Regions from separate parts of the Homo sapiens genome. Here all the other regions are reported to be linked to region 1. Evidence: microRNA targets listed by miRTarBase, many of them from high-throughput screens and not tested one by one. Region 1 holds a microRNA gene; each other region holds the end of a gene's coding sequence.
The links. The annotated mature microRNA hsa-miR-4722-3p reads ACCUGCCAGCACCUCCCUGCAG and lies in region 1 at 1,919-1,940, opposite strand. An mRNA with a match to its seed (bases 2 to 7 or 8) in the 3' UTR can be bound and repressed. Matches are read on the target gene's strand: a 7mer-m8 pairs with bases 2 to 8, a 7mer-A1 pairs with bases 2 to 7 and ends in A, and an 8mer does both.

Region 2: miRTarBase lists PGBD4 as a target of hsa-miR-4722-3p. Seed matches in the 3' UTR shown: 7mer-A1 at 3,271-3,277 and 7mer-m8 at 2,266-2,272.
Region 3: the mRNA of SCN2B is a reported target of hsa-miR-4722-3p. Seed matches in the 3' UTR shown: 7mer-A1 at 3,200-3,206 and 7mer-A1 at 2,171-2,177.
Region 4: the mRNA of RAB21 is a reported target of hsa-miR-4722-3p. Seed matches in the 3' UTR shown: 7mer-A1 at 1,090-1,096.
Region 5: miRTarBase lists CEACAM19 as a target of hsa-miR-4722-3p. Seed matches in the 3' UTR shown: 7mer-m8 at 617-623 and 7mer-m8 at 1,289-1,295.
Region 6: miRTarBase lists ZNF860 as a target of hsa-miR-4722-3p. The part of its 3' UTR that is shown has no 7-base or 8-base seed match.
Region 7: the mRNA of ARFGEF3 is a reported target of hsa-miR-4722-3p. The part of its 3' UTR that is shown has no 7-base or 8-base seed match.

What each region holds. Positions count from the first base shown.
Region 1 is chr16:88,714,360-88,718,425 of GRCh38, forward strand. It overlaps MIR4722 (microRNA 4722), which reads right to left and starts at 1,978; the gene lies at 1,919-1,978. It overlaps CTU2 (cytosolic thiouridylase subunit 2), which reads left to right. Exons shown (of 15, transcript NM_001012759.3): 11 at 24-127; 12 at 228-378; 13 at 501-567; 14 at 689-747; 15 at 823-1,037. The coding sequence ends at 892. It overlaps PIEZO1 (piezo type mechanosensitive ion channel component 1 (Er blood group)), which reads right to left. Exons shown (of 51, transcript NM_001142864.4): 45 at 2,664-2,852; 46 at 2,447-2,539; 47 at 2,200-2,372; 48 at 2,002-2,124; 49 at 1,839-1,918; 50 at 1,574-1,760; 51 at 979-1,495. The coding sequence ends at 1,246.
Region 2 is chr15:34,103,717-34,107,782 of GRCh38, reverse strand. It overlaps PGBD4 (piggyBac transposable element derived 4), which reads right to left. Exons shown (of 1, transcript NM_152595.5): 1 at 1-4,066. The coding sequence ends at 3,494. Among named protein-coding and RNA genes, the nearest start is that of PGBD4, 3.7 kb to the right of the region's middle.
Region 3 is chr11:118,163,415-118,167,480 of GRCh38, forward strand. It overlaps SCN2B (sodium voltage-gated channel beta subunit 2), which reads right to left. Exons shown (of 4, transcript NM_004588.5): 4 at 1-3,672. The coding sequence ends at 3,473. Among named protein-coding and RNA genes, the nearest start is that of SCN2B, 11 kb to the right of the region's middle.
Region 4 is chr12:71,785,083-71,789,148 of GRCh38, reverse strand. RAB21 (RAB21, member RAS oncogene family) reads right to left here. Exons shown (of 7, transcript NM_014999.4): 7 at 1-3,618. The coding sequence ends at 3,476. Among named protein-coding and RNA genes, the nearest start is that of RAB21, 32 kb to the right of the region's middle.
Region 5 is chr19:44,683,029-44,687,094 of GRCh38, forward strand. CEACAM19 (CEA cell adhesion molecule 19) reads left to right here. Exons shown (of 8, transcript NM_001127893.3): 8 at 409-1,327. The coding sequence ends at 462. It overlaps LOC107985306 (a long non-coding RNA gene), which reads left to right and starts at 2,010. Exons shown (of 3, transcript XR_007067268.1): 1 at 2,010-3,202; 2 at 3,815-4,066. RefSeq lists an enhancer at 2,069-2,363.
Region 6 is chr3:31,990,674-31,994,739 of GRCh38, reverse strand. ZNF860 (zinc finger protein 860) reads right to left here. Exons shown (of 2, transcript NM_001137674.3): 2 at 3,017-4,066. The coding sequence ends at 3,762. It also overlaps a transcript of OSBPL10 not described here. Among named protein-coding and RNA genes, the nearest start is that of ZNF860, 11 kb to the right of the region's middle.
Region 7 is chr6:138,335,942-138,340,007 of GRCh38, forward strand. ARFGEF3 (ARFGEF family member 3) reads left to right here. Exons shown (of 34, transcript NM_020340.5): 34 at 354-4,066. The coding sequence ends at 545. Among named protein-coding and RNA genes, the nearest start is that of SMIM28, 40 kb to the right of the region's middle.

The DNA.
Region 1 (4,066 bases):
CTCCTCCCACAATCCGGCCACAGGACAAGTGAGAAGCTGGTGAAGGGCCCCCGGGATGGCCCTGCTGCTGGCGACTCCGGCCCCCGCTGCCTCCTCTGCATGTGTGCCCTGGACGTCGACGCCGCTGGTCTGTGTTTCATGCTCTTGGGGTGATGCGGGGAGGGAGCCAGGGAGTGGGTGTGGGGGCTCAGCAGCCCCAGGCTCCGTCACCCCCTCTCTGCTTGCAGACAGTGCCACGGCTTTTGGGGCTCAGACCTCCTCGCGTCTCTCCCAGATGCAGTCACCCATCCCCCTGACTGAGACCCGGACACCCCCGGGGCCCTGCTGTTCTCCAGGGGTGGGCTGGGCCCAGCGCTGTGGCCAGGGGGCCTGCAGGAGGTGAGTCCCTGTCCCTGCCACCCATGGCCAGCTGCATGGGGCGGGAGGGGGACCTGTCCTTACCCCACACTGCACGGCATTGAGGTGCCAAGGTGGGCACACAGCCAGCTCTGCTCCCGCAGGGAGGACCCCCAAGCCTGCATTGAGGAGCAGCTGTGCTACAGCTGCCGCGTGAACATGAAGGACTTGGTGAGTACGTGCCCACCTGTCCTGGGCCGGGCTTGGGGACGCGGGAAGGCCGTCACCTCGTGGGTGGCTTGAGGGGGTGCTGGCAGGTTTCTTGGCCCCTCGACACCGGCCTCTGTTGCAGCCCTCACTGGACCCCCTGCCGCCGTACATCCTGGCTGAGGCCCAGCTCCGCACACAGAGGTACTGGGGCCCACACTGCCGTGGCGCGTGGGTAAGGGGCCTCGGGGCTGGTGCCCACTGCAGCTTTCTCTCTAGGGCCTGGGGCTTGCAGGAGATCCGGGACTGTCTGATTGAGGACAGTGACGACGAGGCGGGCCAGAGCTGAGCGTGAGGACGTGCTTGCCGGGACAGCAGGCAGTGGCCACCTGGTACACCACACTGGAGCCGGAAGGCAAGGACGGGGGACTGGCCTCTGATTGTCCATTTGTATAAATAAAACATTTTTTAATTAAAAAAAAAACTCTACAGTACACGTGGGGGACGGCAGCGCCACGCAGGCCGTGGGGACGCAGTGTCCTTCTCTGACAGCAGCATCAGGGCTCAGGCAGGCCGGGAGGATGCATCACAGCTGGCGGCCTTGGACGGGGCAGTGGCTCCCCCGGCCTGAGGAGTGCCGCCCCTTGTGGCCACGCTGCCCAGCAGGCCGGCTCCTTCCCTCTCGGGCGCCAGCAGCAGCTCCTACTCCTTCTCACGAGTCCACTTGATCATGGTCTCCGGTGAGCGGTAGAGGAAGATGAGCTTGGCGTACAACTCCTCCTCCAGCTCCAGCTCCCGAGTCTCCCGCACCAGGAAGATGTCCTGGCAGAGCTTGAGGATGCGGTCCACGCACGGCAGCTCCTCGAACATAATGGAGTGCGAGATCTCGCTGAAGAATCCGCGCACGAACTTGCCGATGACCAGCACGATGGACACGTACAGCCCCATGATGCTGCGGGGGAAGCTGGTGAGTCCTGGGGCCGCCCGGAGCCCCCCGAGCTGCGGGGTGCCCCCCCAGCCACTCACTCACCCGTAGCCAGCCAGGAAGCCGAGGCTCGGTGGGCTGACCTTGTCACTGAAAATGACCATGGGCAGCAGGTTGCAGTCGGTCCGGCACTCCTGCAGCTCGATGACCCACCATTCGAGGAAGCCGGTGGCCCCCGCACCCTGCTCCCTCCGCAGCTGGATACGCACGCCGAGGTAGTCGGCCTCCTCATCTGGGATGGAGGGAGAAGATCGTTGAGGCCGCAGGTCACCCCTCTCTAGCCTCCCCCAACCCCCACGCCCATACTCACTGGGCTGCAGCTGCTTCACAGGGTTGGCTTCGGGCCCGTTGGGGGCACGGATGTACTTGGGGAAGAGATTAGGGATGACCCTGCAGGGAGGTGCTGGCAGGTCAGGCCTGGCCCAGCCAACCTGGCACAGCCCTCCTGCCCACCACCCGGGCCCTTCACTCACACAGACTGGTCCGAGGTGCCCTCGAGCAGGCTGGCCAGCTGCCGCCGTGCAGTGCTGTTGGGGGCCAGGGCCAGCATGTGCTTCTCGTTGGCATACTCCACAGTGCCTCCCTTCGCCAGGTCCCTGGGGGTGGGAACACAGCGTGACCCACTGTAGTGGGTCCACCCACCCAGGCACTGCCCCAAGTCCAGGACGAACCTCTGGAAGTTCCAGGTGAAGCGCAGGGTGATGTCGGCCGTGCCGTTGTAGAGCTCCCGCTTCATCTGGGCACGGCTGGGGGGACTGATGCGCCACAGCGCCCCGGAGCTGCCCTCAATCTGCGCCGTGACGATGTCCTCAGGGCTGTACTGGCTGATGAACTGCATGGCCAGCTGGGTACAAGTGACACCCTCAGTGACTGCAGCCGCCTCCCCACACCAGCTTTCACAGGGCAGAGGCCACTTACCGGCTGGGGGTCAAACTGCCGGGACAGCTCCTCATAGGCCTGGGCCGTGAAGGGGATGATGGACGGCTGCTGGGCGCTCATGGTGAACAGCGGCTGGGGCAGGCACGGGGACACGGGGCCACGAAGATGAGCGTGGAGGAGCGGCTGGGGGTGGTGCACCACCTTGGCCAGAACCCCCAGGGGATGGGAATGGACAGGCGGACCCACACATGCTCACCTCATAGCCGCCCAGCTTCAGGGTGACGGTGACATCGATGGGCTGGTTGACAACCCCAACCACGGAGCGCACCAGCGACATGAAGAGCAGTGGGAACCAGATGATGGCGATGAGGAAGAGGATGATGAGGCCACCCATGCCGTACTTGACGATCTTCTTCTTCTTCTGCCCTTTGGGCTGCGGGTATTTCTGGAGGGGAACGACACAGGTCATACGCTCAGCTCTGCCCTTCCTGCGGGTCACACAACCGCATTCTCCAGCTCACCCAGCAGCCCAGAAAAGCCCCAGCCTGACCTCAGTATGGCACAGCGGTAGTAATGGTGGGCAGACACAGGCCAGTGGAGTAGAACTAAGAGTCCAGTTGGAACCCTCATGTTCAGGGGTCGTTGATCTTAGACAAGGGAGCTGTGACCGTTCAGTGGGAACGGACAACCTTTTTCAACACGGTGCAGGCACCGCCCCAGGCAGGAGAATGAAACGCAACTCCTGCCTCATACCATGTGCCAAAATTTACCTCAAAGTGGATCAAAGAGCGAAACTTCAGAGCTAAAACTATAGAACTTTTAGAAGAAAACGGGCAAATCTTCATGAACCTGGATTTGGCGAAGGAAACAAAGTAAACCAGATATTACCAAAATAAATACTTTGTGCTTCCAAAGACACCAAGAAAATTTAAGAGACAGTCCATAGAATTGGAGAAATTTTCTGCAAATTTTAATTGATAAGGTTCTAGCAACCAGAGAATACAGAGAATTCTTCCAATTCAGTCATTTCTAGCCAATGTATCTGCAGAAAAACAGAAAAAACTCTAATAAAAAACAACCCAACTGCTGGGTGTGGCGGCTCACACTTGTCATCCCAGCACTTTGAGGTCAGGAGTTTGAGACGAACCTGGCCAAAAATACAAAAGACTAGCCAGGCCTGGTGGTGCACACCTGTAGTCCCAGCTACTCGGGAGGCTGAGGTGGGAGAATCGCTTGAACCTGGGAGGCAGAGGCTACAGTGAGTGAAGGTCATGCCACTGCACTTCAGCCTGAGATCCTATCTCAAAAGCCCAACTAAACTATGGAGAAAGGATTTGAATAGACATTTCCCCAGAGAAGATACACAAATGGCCAAGCACATGAAAAGACGCTCAGCGTCGGTCAACAGGGAACTGAGAAGAGCCCACAGCAAGCCACCCGTTCAGCAGCATGGCCAGAACAAAAAAGACATAGTAACAGGTTGTTGAGGATGTGGAGAAACCGCAACCTCGTGTTGGTGGTGGGAACCTTAGATGGTGGAGCTGCTATGGAAAACCAGCAGCTCCTCATGATGGAAACCACCACCAGCACTTCCGGCCCTGGCGTGCAGCCACAGGACCAGGGGCACGGGCACACAGACGTGTACACCGGCGTGCCTGG
Region 2 (4,066 bases), not on the chromosome of region 1:
GGGTGAGACAGGAGAATCGTTTGAACCTGGGAGGCGGAGGTTACAGTGAGCCGAGATCACGCCACTGCACTCCAGCCTGGGCAACAAAGAGTGAAACTCTGTCTCAAAAAACAAACAAACAAACAAAAACTGAGATATCACTTTTAATTTATTTGCTTGGCAAAAATAACATTTGATAGCTCATTGTTGGTGAGGGTATGAAGAAGCAAGTTATCTTACACATTGCTGGTGAGAGTGAAAGTTGCAACAACTTCTGTGGAAGAAGATTTCACAATATCATCAAAATTACAAAGGCACATACTCTTTGATCTAGCAATTCTACTTTCTACTAGTACTAATTACGCTACATATATACACCTGTGGAAATCACATGGCAAAAGAAATTCACTTCAGCAAAATTAGGAATAGTAAAATAGGACACAATCTTAATGTTGCTCGATAGAGAATCAGTCCATCCATAAGCTGGAACATTTTGCAGCCATAAAAAGGAACTATGAAGCTTTTTATGTACGAATAAAGGATGATTTCCAAGATATATTTAGTAAAAAGAGCAAAGTGCGGAAGTGCATTTATAGTATACTTTGGAAATATGTATGTAAAACAGTACACATTATAGTTATATATAATCATATGTTAGGTAATACATTATTATATATTAGTGTATTTTATATTAAACAATTTATTTCTAGAATGTTATTTGTATATAAGTTAAATAAATATATATTTTGCCCCTTTTTTCACACAACTGGTAGCATACTATATATATACATATATATGTATATATGGATTTGTTTTTTTGTCTTTTTTTTTTTTTTTTTTTTTTTTAGAGACAGGGTCTGGCTATGTTGCCCAGGATGGAGTGCAATGGCTATTCACAGGCCTGCTATCATAGCACACTACAGCTTCAAATTCCTGGCCCTCCTGGCCTCAAGTGATCCTCCTGCTTCAACCTTCTGAGTAGCTGGGACTACAGGCATGCCACTGTGCCTGGCCTTATTTTTAATGTATATATTTTTCTGTAGATAGTTGACTATCTGTGGAAGAATACTCAGGAAAATGGCAACAGTGATTGCCTCTTGAGAATTGGGTGACTAGGGAGAGAAGTAGGTGGGAGATTTTTTTTGTATACTCATACCTTTTGAATATTGTACCATGTGCCTTTTGAATATTGTACCATGTGCCTTTTGAATATTGTACCATGTGACAAAGTCTATCAGATAAAGACCACCAAGGAACACACCTGCGGTCAAGTTAAGTTTATGAGCTTGCTGCTGTAAGGAAGACCCCACACCAGAGAAACCAAGGATATAACAGTAAGAGGGAACAGAAGGAAACTTTTTTATTTTTTGAGATGGAGTCTCACTCTGTCGCCAGGGCTGGAGTGCAGTGGTGCGATCTTGGCTCACTGCAACCTCTGCCTCCCGGGTTCAAGTGATTCTCCTGTCTCAGCCTCCCAAGTAGCTGGGATTACAGGCACCCACCACTATGCCCAGCTAATTTTTTTTTGTATTTTTAGTAGAGACAGGGTTTCACCATGTTGGCCAGGCTAGTCTCAAACTCCTGACCTTGTGATTCGCCCATCTCGGCCTTCCAAAGTGCTGGGATTACAGGCGTGAGCCACTGTGCCCGGCCCAGAAAGGAACTTTTACAAGATTTGGGCTTCTGTTGAATGATTGAGGAGAGTCTAGGGAAGCAAGGATTGGCTCTTGATTGGGTATCTCAGCAGTCTGTTCAGAGGCACGAGGAACAAAGCGAAGTCATTGGTAAGAAAGTGGTAATCACTGAAAAGAAGAAGGTTGTTAGGCATTTTGCAGGTGTGGTGTGGCCTTGGGAAGAAGTTTTCTGATGGCCTTGCCACTGGCCCTGTCTGTATCTAGTTGGTACATTACAGTCTGATTAAAATCAGCACTGATCTTTCCTTTCTCAGTCCTGAACTGACTTTTACTTTCTGACACTTGAATGTCTTATCTATTCAAAAACTAAGGCATATTTTAAAGTAAAAAGAATGAAAATAAACCTTCTCCACACACTTCTTGAGCCTAGATTACCAGTTCCCTAGCAAATAAGAAATTTATTTGGCAGACAAGAAAGTCAAGTGTGTGTGTGTGTGTGTGTGTTTCTGAGCAATGCTGCTCCTTCCGATGATCAAATATGAAGAAGTAACTATCTTCAGAAAAAAGATGAAGGCAAGTACCCCAGTACTGCAGTAGCTGATGCCAGGGAGACTGGAGTATAGGGGTGGCTCTGGGCATCATGTCCCCATCCCCTGCCAGGGCTGAGTACTTGGCTCTTGAATCTCTTTTTTCAATTGCTGTTACTCTTTCCCATGATGCTGACTCTAAGAGTGCACAAGGCTAAAACATGCATTGCTCTCAATAGGAATCTGTAGCAGAGACAGCGATGTTTAGGGCCAACAAAGATCTTGGGCAAGTCACTTCACTTTCCACCATAAAGAAAATGAAAGGACTGGAGCAAATGATGCCTGAAATCTTGGCTAAGGCCTCAGCAATCAACATTGGCAGCAATCAACCCCTGCCCTCCTCCCCAATACAACCTTGTTATGTTCACAGTAAAACAATCACAACAGGAAGAATAGTGTAGCATCAGATAAATTGTCTTCCAATCCTTTTCACTAGAGGCAACCCTTAGTTAACAGTTATGTGTTTTTCCAGCTATTTTTGTTCAGAGACAGTATCTCCTTCCCATTTTCCATTTAGGAAAAAAAAAAGTGTAGCTCGCTGCCTGCACTCATTTAGTTTTACATAAACACCCTCTTTGAGGCTGAAGCAAATCTGACTGATTTTCAATGTGAAAATAAAATATAAAAACTGTTCTTGGTGCTAGGCGCAGTGGCTCATGCCTATAATCCCAGGACTTTGTGAGGCCCAGATAGGCGGATCACCTGAGGTCGGGAGGTCAAGACTAGCCTGACCAACATGGATAAACCCAGTCTCTACTAAAAATGCAAAATTAGGTGGGTGTGGTGGCACATGCCTGTAATCCCAGCTACTAGGGAGGCTGAGGCACGAGAATCGCTTGAACCTGGGAGGTGGAGGTTACAGTGAGCCAATATCATGCCATTGCACTCCAGCCTGGGCAACAAGAGTGAAACTCCGTCTCAAAACAAAACAAAACAAAACAAAAACAACAAAACTGTTCTTGGAGTTATTTCTTTTTTTTGAGATGGAGTCTCGCTATGTCACCCAGGCTGGAGTGCAGTGGTGTGATCTCAGCTCACTGCAACCTCCGCCTCATGGGTTCAAGCAATTCTCCTGCCTCAGCCTCCCAAGTAGCTTGGATTACAGGCATGTGCCACCACATCCAGCTAATTGTTGTATTTTTAGTAGAGACAGGGTTTCACCATGTTGGCCAGGCTGGTCTTGAATTCCTGATCTCAGGTGATCCACCCAGGTCGGCCTCCCAATCTTGGAGTTATTTCTAAACAGAACTTGTCTCTAATCCTAATGGAACAGATGTGTATGATGATCGGTATTTAATAATTTTTTTTCGTGTGGTAAATTTCAAAGCACGGAACAACACAAAGCGGAACATCACATTCGGCACAAAAATAGCGCGTTTCTTTCCGGATCTTCTTGCCATCCTTGTCGTATTGGGAGCAGCAAATTTTGCAGCGACCAGTTGGATTCTGTTTCCCGGACGTTGCTGGTATGCTCTTGGGGAAATGTCTTCCAGACAGACGAAGAGGTGTGACATCATCGGAGCAAGGACGACCTCGAAGATGTTGCTGCCCTGGCTTGTGATGCTTTTCCAGCATTCTTTCAATCAATGCCAGTCTGAAGTTTATATGGCTCATCGTGTGCTCAGGATTATCCTTCTTGAACAGGATGTAGGAGTTCAGCACTGTAATGTGTAGAAGATGGTGAAAGAATTTCTTATACCAAACCTTGTGTCTTTTGCGCTCAGATGGATAAGAAGTAAGCATTTGATCAGCCGAGTCCACTGCTCCCATATTCTCGTTATAATCCACAATGACACGTGGCCTTTTAGTTTTCTTTCCATTTCTATTGTTTACTTCAATCACAGTATCATTGTGGAATGTTGACAA
Region 3 (4,066 bases), not on the chromosome of region 1:
CTCCCCAAGGAGACTCGCAGAGAGAAACATGGATCCGATCAGCTTTTCCTTTTTATAAACTGGAAATAACTGTGAAGAGTCCATAGCTAGGGGGCAGATAGCTATTTCCAAAGCCAGTTCCAAGGCACCTCAAAGCAGTTCAGTCCTGAATAATTGTGCTTTGTTCTTATAAGCTAAATCCCATGGGTTAGCCAGCCCGTCTCTCTTTGCAGTGGCCCTTAATTAGGAGGAAGAGACAGATGGGGGGTGGGGGCAGAGGGAGGTTCTGAGAGAGCAGGAGAGGCTGGGGCAGTTGAGAAAGTCAGCCGACTAAAACCAGCAGAGCGTGGTGGTGGGAACATGCAACCAGAAGTGGGGCTCGAACCCCACGGTAGGAAGAGGAAGAACTTGTCAGCATAAGTTAGGAAACAGGGTAGGGAAATGGCTGCTGTGGAAACATCTCTCTGGTTTTCCACCTCTACTTACAGAAGCCCCATTTTGCTCCCAACTTCACCATCCTGGGGGAGGCAGCTCTATGAGTCCTCTGGAGGAGATTCTAAGAGGCTCCAGAAGAAAATGCATATGAGGGCTGAGCACCTGGGACAGAGATGGTTCCTGACCCAGCCCCATCTGCTGGGGCCCTGAGGCCCGTGAAGAGACATTGCTTTTCCTGGGCCCCAGTTGATCAGGGCAGAGGAAAAAAAGACTCCAGGAATCTTGGGCTTCTTGATGGAGAGTTAGAACTTCTTAGAATACACTAGGAAAGCCCGCAAATAATTCCCCTAAATGTTATGGATCCTGGAAAAAGATAAGTTCCCAACATCAGCACAGCTCCTCACTCATCCTGGGAGAGAAGGACACTTAAAGGGTGACCAAAAAAATGAAATCTGCAAGCTGCAGAAATGTATACAACCACTCTTGGTCTCAGCTGGCATGAGGTGCCCGCCACCCACCTCTCTGCCCCCAGCTGGCTGGCTCAAGGATGGGCAGCGTCCATCTGCTGCAGGCATCCTGGCGGCTTAGCCCACCCGCATTGGCAGTGTGTTGATTGGCAGTTAGGTACTGAGCTGATGAGTTTAGCATTTCCAGATGGGCTTGACTCGCTCACCTCACCCAGGTGTTACCAGGCTGGTTGCCCATCCCCCACTCTGCACCCACTCTGCCTGGCCTCTGCACCCTTGACCCTGTTGTATTGCCCCTCTTCCCTGCTGTTTCTCCCTTCCCAGGGCACAGATTCTAGAATCTCTTCATCTTCCCCAACTGTAGCCTTGGAAGCAGTGTCTTGCAGAGGTGGAATTAGATGCACCAAAAAGTTAATCTTGGTCCCTACAGTGCCAACCTGGCAGTCCCCAGTGCTTATGGCTTTGTGTATATCCCCAGTGCCCGGCACAGTGCCTGGCACATAATAGATGCTCAATAAATGGTTGCTGAATTGAAGCAAATTAAGCTGAATCTCCCAGATGATATTGCTGTCTCCCCAAATTGGCAATCTGATGGGCAGAGGCAGGGATTGGTCCCTGAGACTGTCACGGTCCTGTCTCCACCCCCTTTCCTAGACTTATTCCCTACCCTGGGCACCTGACTCCTTGAGTAGGGGTGGGGCAGAGCTCCTGGAAAGGCTGGGAAGTGCTGGGGCAGGGAATGGGGCATTTGCCAGCAGCTGTGCCCTTCACACTTGCTCCCTCCCTCCCTGCTTCCCTCCACTCCTCCTCAGTCCTGGCCAGAGGGGCTGGGCTCCTGGGAGGGGGCAGGGCTAGAGAAGCCCACCCCTCCAACTCGCCCCATCATAGACCAGGACACAGAGGCCCCTCCCACTGGGAAAATGATGGCTCTGTTGCTTCAAACTGGAGACTGAGGAGCCAGAGAAGAGGGCAGGACCCTCAGTTTCTGTCAGTTGGAACCTCAGTTTCCCCATTTTAAGTGAGTGACTTGGCTAGTTGATCTCTGAGGATCTTCCAAGGTCATGGTCTCAGAGTCAGTGTTTCTGCCTCTTGCTCCTTCTCTCAGGCCTAATCAATTTCCATTGAATGTGAGTGTAATGGCAGTGATGGTTGGCTCCGCACAATTGCCTTTTTTTTTTTTTTTTTTTTTTTTTGAGATGGAGTCTCTCTATGTCACCCAGGCTGAATTGCAGTGGCACTATCACTATCTCAGTTCACTGCAACCTCTGCTTCCCGGGCTCAAGCGATTCTCCTGCCTCAGCCTCCCAAATAGCTGGGATTACAGGCACACGCCACCACGCCCAGCTAATTCTTGTATTTTTAGTAGAGATGGGGTTTTGCCCATTTCTACTAAACAGATGGAGGTAATCCACCCGCCTTGGCCTCCCAAAGTGCTGGGATTACAGGCGTGAGCCACTGTGCCTGGCCTACAATTGTCACTTTTGTCCCCACGAAGGGAGTTGTTGGGAGAGGAGCGAGTAGTGTGGCTGCAGATGGGACAGGGCTGGCATTGGCAGCTCAGGTTCCAAGGCCTCCCCTTATGCCGGCCTCAGGCTTTCCCTTCCCTCTCTGTAGCCAAAAGCCAGGTGGAAACCCCACCAAGGGCAACTGGGAGAGTTCTCACTGAAGCCCCAAAGAAAGCTGCCCCACCCTGTGCATGGCCTCCTCATTTCCCAGCCTTGGCTGCCCCTGCCCAGGCGAGGGTGGTTACCCCATGGAGAAGGCAGAGCCTGCAGCAACCTGCATTCACCATGGAGCCCCACCCCTCAGCCCCTCAGCTGACTTTGAAACTGGCCTCTGTTGGTGGGTCCCCGCTGGGAAACATGGCCCCCTACCTGGAGCTGCTCTTCCAGTCTGGCCTCATCCACAGTCCTAAGGGATTAGGAGCCAACGGGAGCCCCAAGGAGGCCACTAGCAATGGAAACGAGGGCCCAACATGGCCTCCTGGGCCAGGGCACATGTCCAGCTTTGCCTGCAGCCCTGGCTTTCCGTCAGTGCCCTGGAATGCACAGTCATCCCTTTAACATGCCCCTCCAAGTTTCAGGAACTCATCGTCACCTCCAGCCTGATGGCTGCTCTGGGCTGGGAGCAGGGGAGGAGCACAGCCGTGCCAGGCCAAGGCCCTCCTGAGGGAGCGCTGTCAGCACAGGAAAGCCCTCCCTCCCCACCAGGTCCTCTCTGAAGCCACTGCCAGGCCAAGCACTGGGCAGGTGGACAGCGGCCCCCTCCTCTACCCCTGCCCACCCACTCCCTTCTCTCTGGGGACCCTCACATGTGCCTCCTGCCTCCCCCCAGGGACTGGCAGGTGGGAGCCCTTTCTCTCCTCTCCCCAGGGCCCACACGTCCCAGAGCATGGCAGGTTTCTCGGATGGAAGAGAGTGGGTCACTCTTGGTGCAGGGTGGGAGATACGAAGTCGGGGGTTCAGGAGGCCCCAGGTGGGCCCTGGGGTCCTAGGTCACGGGAAGCACACCAAGAGCGAGCAGGCAGGGTCACTGTACAGGGCGGAGAGGGGAGGAGACGGGACACGGGAGGCTGCAGGGCCGGCCACCCACTACTTGGCGCCATCATCCGGGTTGCCTTCACCGTCCGTCTTGCCCTCCTCCTCGGTCTTCAGGTCATCTGTGCTCAGCTTCTGCTCTTTTTTTCTCCTCACACACTTGACCACCATCAGCACCAAGATGACCACAGCCAGGAAGCCCCCGACGGAGGCACCCACAATCACGGCCACCGTGGAGTCCCGCTCAGGGGGCTCTGGAAAGGAAGCAGAGCCACTGAGCACCAGGGCTGGGAAAGGGGCCTCCCCCATCACCCCACTACCCGTGGCATGCGTGGAACCATCCTGACTTTACTCTCCTCCACAGACAGGACTTTAGCAAAGCCGAAAAGCAATCCAGTGACTGACCCTGAAGCGCCGCCACCTCCAAATCCCAGGACACCCAAAGCCCCCAGAGGAGCTAGTGTGATGAAGTATTTAAGAGCATGAACTTTAAGATCAAACAGACCCAAATTTGAGTCCTAATTGTACAACTTACGAATTGCGTGACCTTAAGTAACTTATCCTCTCTAACCTCAGTTTTCTAACATGTAAAATGGGCTTAATAATAGTACCTCCCTCAAAGGTTTTCATGAGGATGAGATAATGCAT
Region 4 (4,066 bases), not on the chromosome of region 1:
TCTATTCCTCCCTATGCTCTTTCCCTATTTTTCCAATTTTATCTTTCACTACTAAAAACCTAAAAGTGAAGTACTACTCTTCTTCTTCACTTTAATGTCAAATATAAAGTACTCCACTAATAACATATGGCTACTATTAAAAAAAAAAAAGATTTCAATGCAGTAACAGCCATAGCTTTAGGGTATTCTTAGGCAACACCCCAGACAAAACAAATCTGAACACTTATATTTCATACAATAACATAATGCTTTTTTCTTTTCACATTACTGCTTACCCCAAAAGCATGGCAATATACATTTTCAAAAACAATCTTCCCCTGTAATTACAATGAAAAACAAGAAGCAGAATACCCATCATCATTACAGAAACAATGATTGTATACTTTTAACATAATATTCAGGTATTTTTAATCACTATCTTAAACCAATTTTTAATTATATAAGTTAACTGTATATGCTTACTGGCTGAAAAAATACTGGCACAACCTACCTACTGCTTTTAATACACAACGTGGTAACTTGTGTCTTCTGCCTAATAGCACAATTATCAGAAAAAGAATGCAAAAGGTATATTAGAGAAATGAAGAAAGCATCAGAAAAATTTCCTCAGCCTTGGTTTATCATCTCTTTGTCTTTCCTTTGTATATATACTGAAGTTGACTGGTCCTCTTTCATTACTCTATTCCTACCCAAAGACCTTTTGGGTTTCAAAGTGACAGCAGCCATATCATGTTGTCTATTGTTGCTATTGAATTAGCCTCAATTACAGGCCCCCACTAAAAAGGATAAAGAAATACGTGAGGTTAAGAAAGATAACACAGAAACCAAAGGAGAAAAAAGAAAAAAAAAATATGAAGAATAGTTATGACCCACCAATAATTATCTGGCAATTCTGGAGCAGAGGTTCCTATCTAGCTGTTTCATTAAAGTAGGATGAAAAGCTGAAGTATAGCTCTCCAATTATCAGGCTTTAGAACGTTTTTTTAAAATAAAGCTCAATTTCATCTCTAACTAGTTTTTGTGCCTTTTACGAGATGGAGGTCTCAGTGTTACCTAGGCTGGATTTGAAATCCTGGCCTCAAGTGATCCTCCTGCCTCACTCTCCCAAGTAGCTGGCCCTACAAATGCATGCCTCTGTGCCCAGCTACTCTAGTTTTTAAAACATATTTCACTGTAATGAGAAAAGCTTATTTCCTATCTACTTCTACAACAGTAAGAATGGAAAAGCTTTCTTCACTCTGTCTGAAAGAGCCAGGAGGTCAAAAACAAAGTACCGTGATACCCATGATTCTTGCTACCTTCCCCCACCCCCACATAAATACTAACTTCACAGGAAACCAAGAGACTACAGAGTACAATTACCCCATAAAAGAAGACAATTTTAGCTTATCTCCCTGACTCTTCCCACCCCAACTTCCTCAAAAACACATAACAGAAAAGTCTGTGTTGAGTTTAGCAAGGACAATAATTAAAGAAGGTAAAGTGAAGGCTCACAGAATGCCTCCCAGTTTAAGTTAAAATTCCAACATCATAACATCAGGGTGTCAATTCATTCAACTTTTAACCCATTTGAGAAGGTTTAAGTTATTAACTTAAAAATATGGCAGTATTTCTTTTGTAACTATAATCTCTTTATAGCCTCTTAATTGCTCATGCTAATAGCTTTATTACATACTACTGCTTCTTATAAGAAGTAAATCCAGGGGCCATTCCATTTTATCTTAGACATAATATTTACTAGTTTTCCAAGCACGACAGAAATGAAAAAATATATATATTAGAACAAGAACAATTTATGTTAATCTCTACAATCTGTGTTCCTTCTGCGAGCAGTGCCTGATTCTACTAAAATTAACACATTTAAGTTCAGTCTTATGCTTAAGAAAAAAAAATCTAATGAGGGACTAATTTATAAAGTATACACAAATATAATTCTTTAATAAATCTTTCCAGTGTTCACTATATCTGCATTACATGTAATGTTTCCATCCACAGAAACTCAGGATAGTTCTTGTAAAATGAAACAGAACATTCTGTGTTCATCTCTGGCAAGCAATGAACAAATAGAACTTGCTCACAAAGGATCTAAAAGTGCTGCCTCAGGAACATAAACTACGTGCTATATGAATGAGTCTTGGTTAACTGGCTACTATCTGGGATCTCTTCCTCTGCTCATACCACTGAACCCATCTCTTATAAAGCCTATGAGAAAATGAAAGCTATTGCAGAAGTGAAATTCAACATGAGCCACCCAAATTCTTCTAAGGTAACCATTCTAAAGCAAAATCAGCAGAAGTCATCTCTTCTATAATAACAAACAAAAAACCCAAAAGGCAAATGCTACTGCTCAATCATCAGATGAACTCACAGAGGCAAAAATATGTGACAACAGCAATAATTCAAGTAAAGTATGTATGAAAATTTAAACACGCCATGTTCAAGTTAAGACAGAAGTGAAGGGGAGCTATGATCTTTATATTAGTCAAAAAAGCTAGGCATAATCACCAAATGTTAATTCACTTTACAGTCATCAATGAGACTATTGTATATATTTTTGCACCTTGCGCTTGTAAAAGCAGATAAAATATTTAATATGTAATTTACAATGTATTTTACCAGCTCAGCATACAGGATGTATACAGATTATATCAAAGTAGTAGACAGTTACGGGCCTGTGCAAACCCTGCAAAAATAGTACTTCAGATATCTGCTAATTAAAAACAAAAACAGTTTGCTGTTTAGAAGTGATACAATTTCAACTACCACAAAATACAAAGGGCTGCAAAAATGTAACCATTCCAACAACATATATAAGTTATTAAATAAAGATTTGATTTGAAAGAATATAAATGAAGACTTTAAGTAGGTCTTTTCTACATGCATATTATTCCTCATTAAAGAAAAAATATGTAAAAAGGCCATTGGTAATTGCTTTGTTAACATTTGTAGGCCGGGCACGGTGGCTCACGCCTGTAATCCCAGCACTTTGGGAGGCCGAGGCGGGCGGATCACAAGGTCAGGAGATCGAGACCATCCTGGCTAACCTGGTGAAACCCCGTCTCTACTAAAAATACAAAAAATTAGCCGGGCGTCGTGGTGGGCGCCTATAGTCCCAGCTACTCGGGAGGCTGAGGCAGGAGAATGGCGTGAACCTGGGAGGTGGAGCTTGCAGTGAGCCGAGATCAAGCCAGTGCACTCCAGCCTGGGTGACAGAGCGAGACTCCGTCTCAAAAAAAAACAAAAAAAAACAAAAAAAAAACAAAAAAAAACATTTGTAGAAAATGCCAATTCTCTGGTCACAAACTCCACTAAGTTTAGCACTTAAGGTCTCTGCAGTGTTATAAACGTAATTTAAAATACTGTTAATTCTATAATTCCATTGGTAAAATAATGTGACTTGGAATATGGCAGTCTTCATGTTGAGGGCAATGATCCACAGTTTTGTTCTGTCTTTTAATTTCTTAGGCGTGAACAGTTATCCAGAAGAACAGCACCCTCCACCACTGGTCTGGGCTTGAGGTTCATCATCAATAATCTGTACACCTCGCCTTGCAGTTCCCGGCTGACTAGAGCCATTGCCTTTTGCTCTCTCATCCACTTGTGCTGTTTCTATCATCCCTAAGACAGAGAGAAAGCAAACATTATTAGGACCACAATATTTGTGTTTTCTCTTTCTAAAATTTCAGTATAACACTATGATAGCTATTTCTGACTTTCGACCAACAAAGAAACTAAATATAATGAACATTGGGTCAGCTCACTAAAACAGCTTCACCTGCATGTTTTAAAAAACTAGTGTCAAAAACTAGTATCAAGTAGTAAGCTTATTTATCCAGTGGTATAATGGCCACAGTGATATCAATAAAGAAAAAAATTTTTTTGCTCTGAACAATTGCCTGCGTACAAGTATAATCCTTAAGATTTTCCAAACACACTTAGAAATATGTCAAAGAAGTTCAAATTATTCCAAGTAATATTTAGGGGGCAGGATTTATTCTTCAACTAGAAATGTAATACTTTTAAGTAAATGATTCTTTTTATTTTAGTTTTGAGAGACAGGGTCTCG
Region 5 (4,066 bases), not on the chromosome of region 1:
TGTATGTCTGTCTTCCCCTTTCTTGGACTCTCTCTCTCTCTCTCTCTCTCTCTCTCAGTTTCTCTTGCTGTGTCCTTTTTAATCTGTCTTTCTGTTTCCAGTTTGTTCATGCTGCCTTGTCTAAGATGCATCTCTTTACATGTCTTCGTTTCTCTGCATCTCTGTCTCTCTCTCTCTCCATTCTCTGTCTCTCCTGCCTCTTTGTCTCTGTCACTGTGTCCACCTCATTTCTTGGCTCTTCCAGGACCTCTTGTCTCTGCATCTCACTCTCTTTCCACCTTGCTCTTCCATTCTCTCTGCGGGTTTCTCTCCATCTCACGCTGTCTCTCATCCTCTGTCCCTCTCTGTCTCCCCAAGACTCTCCCCCTCCACCCAGTCATAATTCTGTTCTCTCTTCCCCCCAAGCAGGACCTGCTAAACCCCGACCCTGCCCCCTACTGCCAGCTGGTGCCAACTTCCTGATGGGTCCTGGGCCAGGCCAGCCAGGGAGAAGACAAGGCCCCAGCCCTCCTCTGGGAGCCTCACACCTGAGACCAGCAGGACAAGGCCATTGGGGGCTGTGGGGCCGATGAGGTGGACTCAGCCAAAGACTCAGCAGCACATGGGGCAGGTGTCCTGGCAGGGGGACAGGAGACTGTAACAGGCCCAGGTCCTTGTGCAGCCCGTGAATGCACGCCCGCCTTCGGTCTGTTCCTTCAAGCAAGCTGGCCTGGGCCATGTGCCTGTGAAAGGCAGGCTCTGGCCCCTTTCCATGCCAAAGTCCCCCAAGATCTGGATATCTGGGGACAAGATGGTGGCCTCAGGCCTGCCTCCCAGGCAGTTGGCTGGGCTCCCAACTGTCTGTCCTCAATGCCCTACCCCAACTCCACTAGTGACCCTCAGAGTCTTCTCCCCTTAGGACAAGGCAGACACCCCACCATGCGGGCCTCAGGTGGCAGAGAGGCCCAGCCTCACAGGCCTGTGGCCCCACACACCAGTCCCAGCAAGGTGACCACGGCTGCTGGACCCCTTCCCTGTTCAGGCAGGCCCAGCCCCTCTCAGAACCTGCTGCCAGCTGCTGGTCTTGGCCCCCACCCTGAATCTTACTGAGTCCCTCTGGGCAGCAGCTCCCTTCTCCACCCCACCCCAGCACCCGTCCCAAATGTGGCCTCAGCTTGTCCTCCCCTTCCCCAAACTATGCATTCATTCAGCAATAAATGAGCCTTTGCTGTATGCCAGACCCAGTTCTAGGCTCTTGCAGCCCTGGTAGAAAGCAAAACAAAAACTCCCGCTTTCCCAGAGGGTCACTTGGCAGGGGAAAGAATCAGGAAATAAAATAAATAATGAACATGCGTTGTCTGTCAGATGGGGATAAGTGTATTGGGGAAATGGAGGGGGGTCGAGAGTATTGGGGGACTGAGATTTTTAATTAGGGCACAGAGGTCCTCGCTGAGAAGGTGACAAATGAGCAAAGACTTGTAGGAGGGGAAGAAAGGAGCCATGTGGGGCTCTGGAGGAAGAGCATTCCAGACAGAGGGAATAGCCAGTGCAAAGGCCCTGGGGCAGAAGCATGCCTGGCATATTCAAGGAGCAGCAAGGGGGCTGGGCATGGTGGCTCACACCTATAATCCCAGCACTTTGGGAAGCCAAGGCAAGCAGATCATTTGAGGTCAGGGGTTCAAGACCAGCCTGGCCAACATGGTGAAACCCCTTCTCTATTAAAAATACAAAAATTAGCCGGGCATGGTGGTGGGCACCTGTAATCCCAGCAACTGGGGAGGCTGAGGCAGGAAAATCACTTGAACCCGGGAGGCGGAGTTTGCAGTGGGCCAAGATCGTGCCCCTGCACTCCAGCCTGGGTGACAGAGCAAGACTCCACCTCAAAAAAAAAAAAAAAAAAGGAGCAGCAAGGAGGCCAGTGTGGTGGAGAGGGTGGGGAAGGAGGAAAAGGTGGGTGGAAGTTGACGTCAGGAGATGGACGGAGGGGCACATGGCGCAGGGCCAGGTAAGGCACTGCCGAGACTGTGGCTTTGAGGGGCAGGGTGCTGTGAAAGGCGAATAACGGCCCCCCAGTGACGTCTACATCCTAATCCCCTGTGAATGTTACGTTATATGACAAAAGAATGCAGCCATGATTAAGTTCAGGATCGTGCTTTGGGGAGATTATCCTGGATTGCCCTGGCAGGCTCTTTATGTAATCACACAGATCCTTATAATCGAGAAGGACACAGGAAGCGTGAGTCAGAGGGGCTGTGACAACAAAGGAAGCAAAGCCCTTTGAAGACGGGAGAAGGAGCTGAAAGTCAAGCAGCACTTCAGAGTCAGAATGATTGAGTGTGAGAGAGTCCATGGGCCATCGTGAGTGTTGAAGACGGAAGGGGGCCTTGAGCTAAGGAATGCAAGAAACTTCTAGAAGCTGGAGGAGGGCCAAGCTCAGTGGCTCACGCCTGCAGTCCCAGCACTTTGGGAGGCCAAGGTGGGAGGATCGCTTGAGGCCAGGAGTTGGAGACCAGCCTGGGCAACATAGCAAGACCCCGTCTCTACAAAAAAAAAAAAAAAAAAAAACAGAACCGAGGGTGGTGGCTCATGCCTGGAATCCCAGCACTTTGGGAGGCCGAGACAGGGGGATCACCTGAGGTCAGGAGTTCAAGAATCAGCCTGGCCAAGATGGGGAAACCCCGTCTCTACCAAACATAGAAAAATTAGCCAGGCGTGGTGGCGGGTGCCTGTAATGCCAGCTACTGGAGAGGCAGAGGCAGGAGAATCGCTTGAACCCAGGAGGCGGAGGTTGCAGTGAGCCAAGGTTGCACCATTGCACTCCAGCCTGGGTGACAGAGCGAGACTCTGTCTTAAAAAAAAAAAAAAAATCAGAATTGAGGAAAGGCAAGAAAATGGATTTTCTTCCTACAACCTCCAGAAAGCAACACAGTCCCGCTGAAACCTTGGCTTTAGTGCAGTGAGACCCATTTTGGATTCTTGACCTCCAGAACTATAAGATAACAAACTTGTGTTGTTTTAAGCCACTAAATTTGTGGCAATTTTTTACAGGAAATGGGAAACTAATCTAGAGGATGAGGAAGAAATCACAGAAGGAGAAGTTGCGTCTCATGCTGACTCAGTATGCAAATACTCTCTGGGAGACTTCTCCATCCTCAGACCGCTCCAGACACCAAATGCCTGGGCCTTTGACCGCCTTGCTAAGAGGGTCAACCAAGCCAGCCAGGTAGCCAGGGCTCAGGGCTAGGAGTGTGAGGGGATTCCATCTTTTCTCTCTCTTTTTTTTTTTTTCTTTTTTGAGACTTTTCTTTTTTGAGTCTTGCTCTGTCGCCGAGGCTGGAGTGCAGTGGTGCGATCTCAGCTCACTACAACCTACGCCTCCCAGGCTCAAGCAATTCTCCTGCCTCAGCCTACCAAGTAGCTGAACTACAGGTGCACACCACCTCACCCGGCTACTTTTTTTTTTTTTTTTGTATTTTCAGTAGAGACAAGTTTCACCATGCTGGCCAGGCTGGTCTCAAACTCCTGGCTCTGCAGACAGGAGGACTGAAATCCATGGTGGCAGACGCCTATAATCCCAGAACTTTGGGAGACCAAGGCAGACGGATTACTTGAGGTAGGAGTTCAAGGCCAGCCTGGCCAACATGCTGAAATACAGTCTCTACTAAAAATACAAAAATTAGCCGGGAGTGGTGGTAGGTTGAGACAGGAGAATCGCTTGAATCCGGGAGGCAGAGGTTGCATTCAGCCGAGGTCATGCCACTGCACTCCAGCCTGGGCAACAGAGCAACACTCTAGAACAAAACATTGACAGAATTTGTTTCTGGTTTGGATACAGGGGATTGGAGAGAAGAGTGTGCCAATAATTGGTTTGTTCATCAATTCAATGAAGATTTATTGAGCATCTGTTGTGGACAGCCCTATTCTAGGTTCTGGGGAGACAGCCATGAATGAGACAGTGATGGCTGCTTTTGGAGAGCTGACCTTCTAGTGGGAGACAGGCCACAGAAAAACAAAGCACATGGAACATAATGTCAGGGATGACGATGCTGTGAAGGAATGGAGCAGGTGCTAAGAACCTACTGGAACG
Region 6 (4,066 bases), not on the chromosome of region 1:
CTTCCTTTGGCAGTAACATATCTGGTGTTTGCAGTACACTTTCAATTTATAAAGAATTTTCTGATTTGGTGTCTCATTTAATCAAATGCTCACATTACTGTCACTTGAAGAAGGTGTATAGAAAAGACATCTGCACACCTACCCAAAAGATCTTAGAAATATCACTGAAAATTTTCAGCAGGCATGCAGTTAGGCTGGCAGACCATCCATCCATCCATCCATCCATCCATCCATCCATCCATCCATCCTTTTTTTCCCTGACATAGGGAACTCATCCTCTAACATGAAGGCATACAGGACATTTGACCTCATATACCTTTTTCTTTTTTAAAAATTTGTTTGAGAAGTTCACATTTAATAAATTTCACTATTTTTGGTGGACAGTCTATGAGTTTCTATGAGGCCTGGAGCTCTTGTAACCACTGCCACAAGTAAGTTATAGGACAGTTCCATCACTCCACCCACGTTCAAATACATTTCTGTCTAGCTACCTCTTTCTAGTCAAACACTTGCTCCACTCTTAACTCTTGGCAATCACTACTCTCAACTCTGTTCCTATAGTTTTGCCTTTTCCAGAATGTCATTATCAAGAAAATCATATAGTGTGTGGTTGAGTCTGGCTTCTTTCACTGAACATAATGCATATGAGATTCACTTGCAATATTGCATGTAACAATAGTTTACTCTCATTTATTGCTGAGTACTCATTTATTGTATACATGTACCATAGTTGGTTTACATTTTTAATTCATTCCCCAGTTGAGGGATCTTTGGGTTGTTTCCGGGTTTTGATGATTATGAATAAGGCATCAATAAACATTCACAAACAAGTTTTTTTTTGTACAAACATAGGTTTTCATTATATTTGTATAAATATCTAGAAGTGGAATAACTAGATCATATTGTATGTTTAACTTTAAAAGACACTGTCAAACTGTTTTCCAAAGTGACTGTATTATTTTGCACTCTCACCAGCAATGTGTAAGAGTTCCAATTACTCCACATCCTCACCAGCACTTGGTATCCTCAGTTTTGTGTGTGTGTGTGTGTGTGTGTGTATGTGTGTGTAGTCATGTTAATAGGTATGTAGTAGTATCTCATTGTAGTTTTACTTGTATTTCCCTAATGACTAGTAATGTTGAACATCTCTTGATGTGCTTTTTCGGACATCTGTATATCTTATTTGGTGAAGTGAATGCTCACATTTTTTGTGATTAAAAAAGGGTTTTCTTGTCTGGGCGCGGTGGCTCATGCCTGTAATCCCAGCACTTTGGGAGGCCGAGGCGGGTGGATCACCTGAGGTCAGGAGTTTGAAACCAGCCTGACCAACATGGAGAAACCCTGTCTCTACTAAAAATACAAAATTAGCCGGGCATGGTGGCGCATGCCTGTAATCCCAGCTACCGGGAGGCTGAGGCAGGAGAAGTGCTTGAACCTGGGAGGTGGAAGTTGTGGTGAGCTGAGATCGTGCCATTGCACTCCAGCCTGGTCAACAAGAGTGAACTCTGTCTCAAAAATAAAATAAAATAAAATAAAATAAAATAAAATAAAATAAAATAAAATAAAATAAAATAAGGTTTTCTTACTTCTGCATTTTGAGGGTTCTTTGAATATGCGGGAAACAAGTCCTTGGTCAAACACATGATTTGCAAATATTTTCCCGTCTTTGGCTCACCTTTCATTTCCTTACCCATATCTTTTGTAGAGTAAATATTTTCAGTATTTGTTTATTTTTTAGAGACAGGGTCTTGCTCTATTGCCTGGGCTGGAGTGCAGTGGCATGATCACAGCTCACTGCAGCTTTGAACTTCTGTGTTCAAGTGATACTCCTGCCTCAGCCTCTTGAGTAACTAGGACTACAGGCATGTGCCATCCACACCCAGCTAATATTTTATTTAAAAAACTTTCTGGACAGATGTTACCTTGCTATGTAGCCCAAGCTGGTCTTGAAATCCCAGCCTCAAGTGATGTTCCTGCCTTGGCCTCCCAAAGTGCTGGGATTACAGGCATGAGTCACCATGCCTGGCCAAGGTTTGTTTGTTTTTTGCATATAGATGTCTAGTTCCATCACTTGTTGAAAAGATCATCCAGGTGTGCTCAATGTAATCACAAGGGTCCTTATGAAAAATGCAGGAGGGTCAGAGTCAGAGAAGGAGATGCAATGACAGAACCAGAGATTGGAGTGATGTCCTTGCTGAAAGGGGCCAAAAACCAGGAACCAAGGAATGTGGGCAGCCTCTAGATGCTGGAAAAGGCAAGTAATAGATTCTCCCCTAGAGCCTCCAGAATCAACATGGCTCTACTGATACCTTGATTTTACCATGTAAGACCCATTTTTGGGCTTCTGACTGCCAGAACGGTAAAATAATCAAGTTGTATTGTTTTATAATAACCACTATGTTTATGGTAATATTTTATAGTAGCAATAGGAAACCAATACAAAAAGCTGCATTGAATTGCCTTTGCATTTCTGTCAAAATCAAGTGACTATATTCATATGAAACTATTTCTAGATTATTTATTCTGTTCCATATTTCTATGTGTCCATACTTTTTGCCTACACCACACTGACATATCTTTTTTTTTTTTTTTTTGAGATGGAGTCTCGCTCTGTTGCCTAGGTTGGAGTGCAGTGGGGCGATCCTGGCTCACTGCGACCTCTGCCTCCCAGGTTCAAGTGATTCTCCTGCCTCAGCCTCCCCAGTAGCTGGGACTACTGGTGCGTGCCACTACGCCTGGCTAATTTTTGTATTTTTTGTAGAGGTGGGGTTTTGCCATGTTGACCAGGCTGGTCTCAAACTCCTAACCTCAAGTGATCCACCCAAAGTGCTGGGATTACAGGCATGAGCCACTGCACCTGGCATTTTTTTTTTTTTAGCCTGTCTTGAATTCTCTTATTTTCACTGCTTCATATCTTCAGGATATGAAAAGTTGGTCAGTGGTAGTGAGAAAGATCCCAAAACATAAGGATCAAAAAATGGCATGTTTCAGGGTAGGCATCTGTATTAGTTATCCATTTTTTTTTTCAGAAAGAAAGAAGTAAAATTGTATTTGTTTGTAGATGACATGATCTGCTGTGTAGAAAATCACAGAGTCAACTAAAATACTACTGAAGCTAATAAACACAGTGTATTTGCAGAATACAATATCAGTACCAAAAATTAGTTAAATTTCCATACATTAACAATAAACAATGTTAAAAGAAAATTAAGAAAACACTTCCATTTGCTAGAGAACTTACAGTAAGAAATATTTAGGAATAAACGTAAAAAGGTGAGAAGTTTGTACCTTGAAATCTACAAACATTGATCAAAATGATTAAAAACTTATATAAATAGAGATATGACCCATATTGATGGATTGGAAAGATTAATATTGTTAAATGATTATATAACCCAATGTGATTTAGATTCAACACAATACCCATAAAAATCCCTATCAGAAACAAAAAACAGGCTAGGAAAAGTGGCTCACGTCTTTTGGCCAGGATGGTCTCAAACTCCTGACCTCAAGTGATCTATCCGTCTTGACCTCCCACAGTGCTGGGATTACAGGTATAAGCCACCCTGCCCAGCCCAATCCTCTTAACGTAAACACTTTAATGTCAATTAATGCTTGAACTCAATGTCAAGTCAACTGAAACTCAAGTCAATGCTGAATTGACTCTAATGTCAATTAATGCTTGATGGTTTGCTATACTCATTGCATTTGGAACAATTATCTCAGGAATGAATTTTCTGATGTTTTGCAAGGAGTGACCTCTAACTGAAGACCTTGCCACGCTTATGACATTTGTAAGATTTCTGTCCGGTATGGATTCTCTGATGTCTAATGCGATGTGAATGTGAAGTAAAGGCTTTGCCACAATCATCACACTTGTGATGTTTCTCTCCCATATGAATTCTCCTTTGTTTTGCATAAGATGAAGCTTGACTGAAGGCCTCGTCAAAATCATCACATTTGTAAGGTTTCTCTCCAGTATGAATTCTCTTATGTGTTTCATGGTGTGATTTGCGACTGAAAACTGTGTCACATTCTTCACATTTGTAAGGTTTCTCTCCAGTAT
Region 7 (4,066 bases), not on the chromosome of region 1:
GCATCAAAAAATGAGTTTGAGATTAACGGCCTGTGGAGATCTCACTGTGAGAAGGCAAGGGAGGTTTGTTGTTGTTGTTGTTTTTAAATCTAAGGAATAAGTAAGAGTTTAGTAGTTTGTGAAAGCTGAAAATAAGGCGAGTCTCTGCCCATCTTTATGTATGTGAAGTTATGATGTAGGCATAATAAATTAATACGCCTACAATTTATTATAGGCATATTAAATGAGTGAAAACTAATTTATTGCAACTAAAGCCTGGAAAAAAACCATTTCCACATTGGCAGGGCCACTCTCAAGTGTTCAAATAAAACCAGGGGGGAAAGCCACTGATTTTCTTAAATCTTTTCTCTTAGGCATGGACCAACATGGTGCTAACAGTTCTCAATCAGATTCAGATTCTCCCAGACCAGACCTTCACGGCCCTCCAGCCCGCAGTGTTCCCGTGCATCAGTCAGCTGACCTGTCACGTGACCGACATCAGAGTTCGCCAGGCTGTGAGGGAGTGGCTGGGCAGGGTGGGCCGTGTCTATGACATCATTGTGTAGCCGACTCCTGTTCTACTCTCCCACCAAATAACAGTAGTGAGGGTTAGAGTCCTGCCAATACAGCTGTTGCATTTTCCCCACCACTAGCCCCACTTAAACTACTACTACTGTCTCAGAGAACAGTGTTTCCTAATGTAAAAAGCCTTTCCAACCACTGATCAGCATTGGGGCCATACTAAGGTTTGTATCTAGATGACACAAACGATATTCTGATTTTGCACATTATTATAGAAGAATCTATAATCCTTGATATGTTTCTAACTCTTGAAGTATATTTCCCAGTGCTTTTGCTTACAGTGTTGTCCCCAAATGGGTCATTTTCAAGGATTACTCATTTGAAAACACTATATTGATCCATTTGATCCATCATTTAAAAAATAAATACAATTCCTAAGGCAATATCTGCTGGTAAGTCAAGCTGATAAACACTCAGACATCTAGTACCAGGGATTATTAATTGGAGGAAGATTTATGGTTATGGGTCTGGCTGGGAAGAAGACAACTATAAATACATATTCTTGGGTGTCATAATCAAGAAAGAGGTGACTTCTGTTGTAAAATAATCCAGAACACTTCAAAATTATTCCTAAATCATTAAGATTTTCAGGTATTCACCAATTTCCCCATGTAAGGTACTGTGTTGTACCTTTATTTCTGTATTTCTAAAAGAAGAAAGTTCTTTCCTAGCAGGGTTTGAAGTCTGTGGCTTATCAGCCTGTGACACAGAGTACCCAGTGAAAGTGGCTGGTACGTAGATTGTCAAGAGACATAAGACCGACCAGCCACCCTGGCTGTTCTTGTGGTGTTTGTTTCCATCCCCAAGGCAAACAAGGAAAGGAAAGGAAAGAAGAAAAGGTGCCTTAGTCCTTTGTTGCACTTCCATTTCCATGCCCCACAATTGTCTGAACATAAGGTATAGCATTTGGTTTTTAAGAAAACAAAACATTAAGACGCAACTCATTTTATATCAACACGCTTGGAGGAAAGGGACTCAGGGAAGGGAGCAGGGAGTGTGGGGTGGGGATGGATTATGATGAAATCATTTTCAATCTTAAAATATAATACAACAATCTTGCAAAATTATGGTGTCAGTTACACAAGCTCTAGTCTCAAAATGAAAGTAATGGAGAAAGACACTGAAATTTAGAAAATTTTGTCGATTTAAAATATTTCTCCTATCTACCAAGTAAAGTTACCCTATGTTTGATGTCTTTGCATTCAGACCAATATTTCAGGTGGATATTTCTAAGTATTACTAGAAAATACGTTTGAAAGCTTTATCTTATTATTTACAGTATTTTTATATTTCTTACATTATCCTAATGATTGAAAACTCCTCAATCAAGCTTACTTACACACATTCTACAGAGTTATTTAAGGCATACATTATAATCTCCCAGCCCCATTCATAATGAATAAGTCACCCTTTAAATATAAGACACAAATTCTACAGTATTGAAATAAGGATTTAAAGGGGTATTTGTAAACTTTGCCCTCCTTGAGAAATATGGAACTACCTTAGAGGTTAAGAGGAAGGCAGTGTTCTGACTTCTTTAGGTGATCTGAAAAAAACACCCTTATCATCCAGTGTACCATCTAGAGATCACCACAGAATCCATTTTTTTCCCAGTTCCACAAAACACTCTGTTTGCCTTCAGTTTTTACTCACTAGACAATAATTCAAGTTTAGAAACAGGTAATCAGCTATTTGATCTTAAAAGGCAATGAATTGTTGGGATATCAGTGAACTATGTTGTATACTTTTGAATTTTTACATTTTATAAATGGAATTGAAAGTTGGATAACTGCTTTTTTTAAATTTTCCAACAGAAGTAACACCACAGTTGCTTTGTTTCTTTTTATAGCTTACCTGAGGTTCAGTTCTTCTTTGTGAACCTGTGAGTACTCCACAGTTTACTGGGGGAAAAGGCTTCAGTAAAGCAGAGGCTAGAATTACAGTATTTATACATAGCAACTTTTCATAAAGTAGAAAAATTCAAAGGAAGCTGTCTCAATTTGAGAATACCAGCTGGGCACGGTGGCTCACGCCTGTAATCCCAGCACTTACTTTGGGAGGCCAAGGTGGGCAGATAACCTGCGGTCAGGAGTTTGAGACCAGGCTGGACAACATGGTGAAACCTCGTCTCTACTAAAAATACAAAAATTAGCCAGGTGTGGTAGGATGCACCTGTAATCCCAGCTACTTAGGAGGCCGAGACAGGAGAATCGCTCGAACCCAGGAGGCGGACGTTGCAGTGAGCCAAGATTGCACCATTGCACTCCAGACTGGGTGACAAGAGTGAAACTCCATCTAAAAAAAAAAAAAAAAAAAAGTGAATACTGTATCCCAAAGTATGTTAGTTGTTTGTTTGGAAATCAGCATTCTCCCCGATGCTCTATTATGGGATCCAAAATTCTTGAACATAAGTTTACCCTGTACTGTGTCCAAACACTGTTCTAGTTCTAGCCTGATTATGGGTCCCAAGAATAAAAGGATGAGTAGGTGTACAGAGCTCTTGACCTACAATTTTTTAAGAGTGTTTTGGTACCTTCCCATTGTCTTCTCTATAACTCAGTCCTAACATACTCTGCACTCGAGTTACCAGCCATCCACACTGACATCAGATTTCAACCAGAACCATCACTGAGTGACAGCAGTACTTCTCAGAGGTATTTGCAGCTTGATGCAAAGTAGTCTCTAATGAGTAGGCATTCAGGTGGTTCTTCCCAGCAGGTGGAGAAGAAAGGGAGGAGATGAAGAACACTGAGAGGGGAGTGGCACCTTCCCAGGCTGCCCAGCTCAGTCTCTTGCCCTGTTCCTGTGACTCAGCTGCCCACTCCCCCAACTTTGTTTCCCTCCCTCCCAGTCTCTGAAAGTGTCAGGTGTTTCTCTCCTCACAGTCTCTTTTGCAGCAACAGTAAGACAAAATTCAAGGCAGCCTTTTAAAGTTACGAACAGTTATTAGCATGTATTTACAGACCTAAGCAGAATGAGAGTTTATACATTGTTTTTAGTTGCCTGTATTTATAGCCAAAAGTATATTACCTTAAAGTTGAGATCTTTCTCTTCTTTTCCTAAATTTTGGTAAAGTGTGCTTCATGAAACAAACATCTGGAAAACTCCAAGTATAAGAGACCCTGGACTGATGATGGCCCAGCCAAGTATATGGAGGGACAGAGTTCTCTCTGTCATTAATGAGGACATCGGTTTTCACAATTGAACCTCATGCACTGTCCACAGCATCTCACCTAGCTCCTGTATCTCCTGATCTGCTTTTAAAAATAGTTAGTTAGGCTGCCTTTTTACACCACCTTCTCTCTCTCCCCTTGTGGTAATTTTCCAGCCTTCCCCATAGATATAAAACTAGAACACCTTTATGATTTGGGGTCTATGTAATGACTGACCGATAAGAACCCAGGCAGATGCTAACATACTTAACAGCTCGCATTAAAATACTTTAAATCAGGCGTGATGGCTCATTCCTGTAATCTCAAGCACTTTGGGAGGCTAAGGTGGGTGG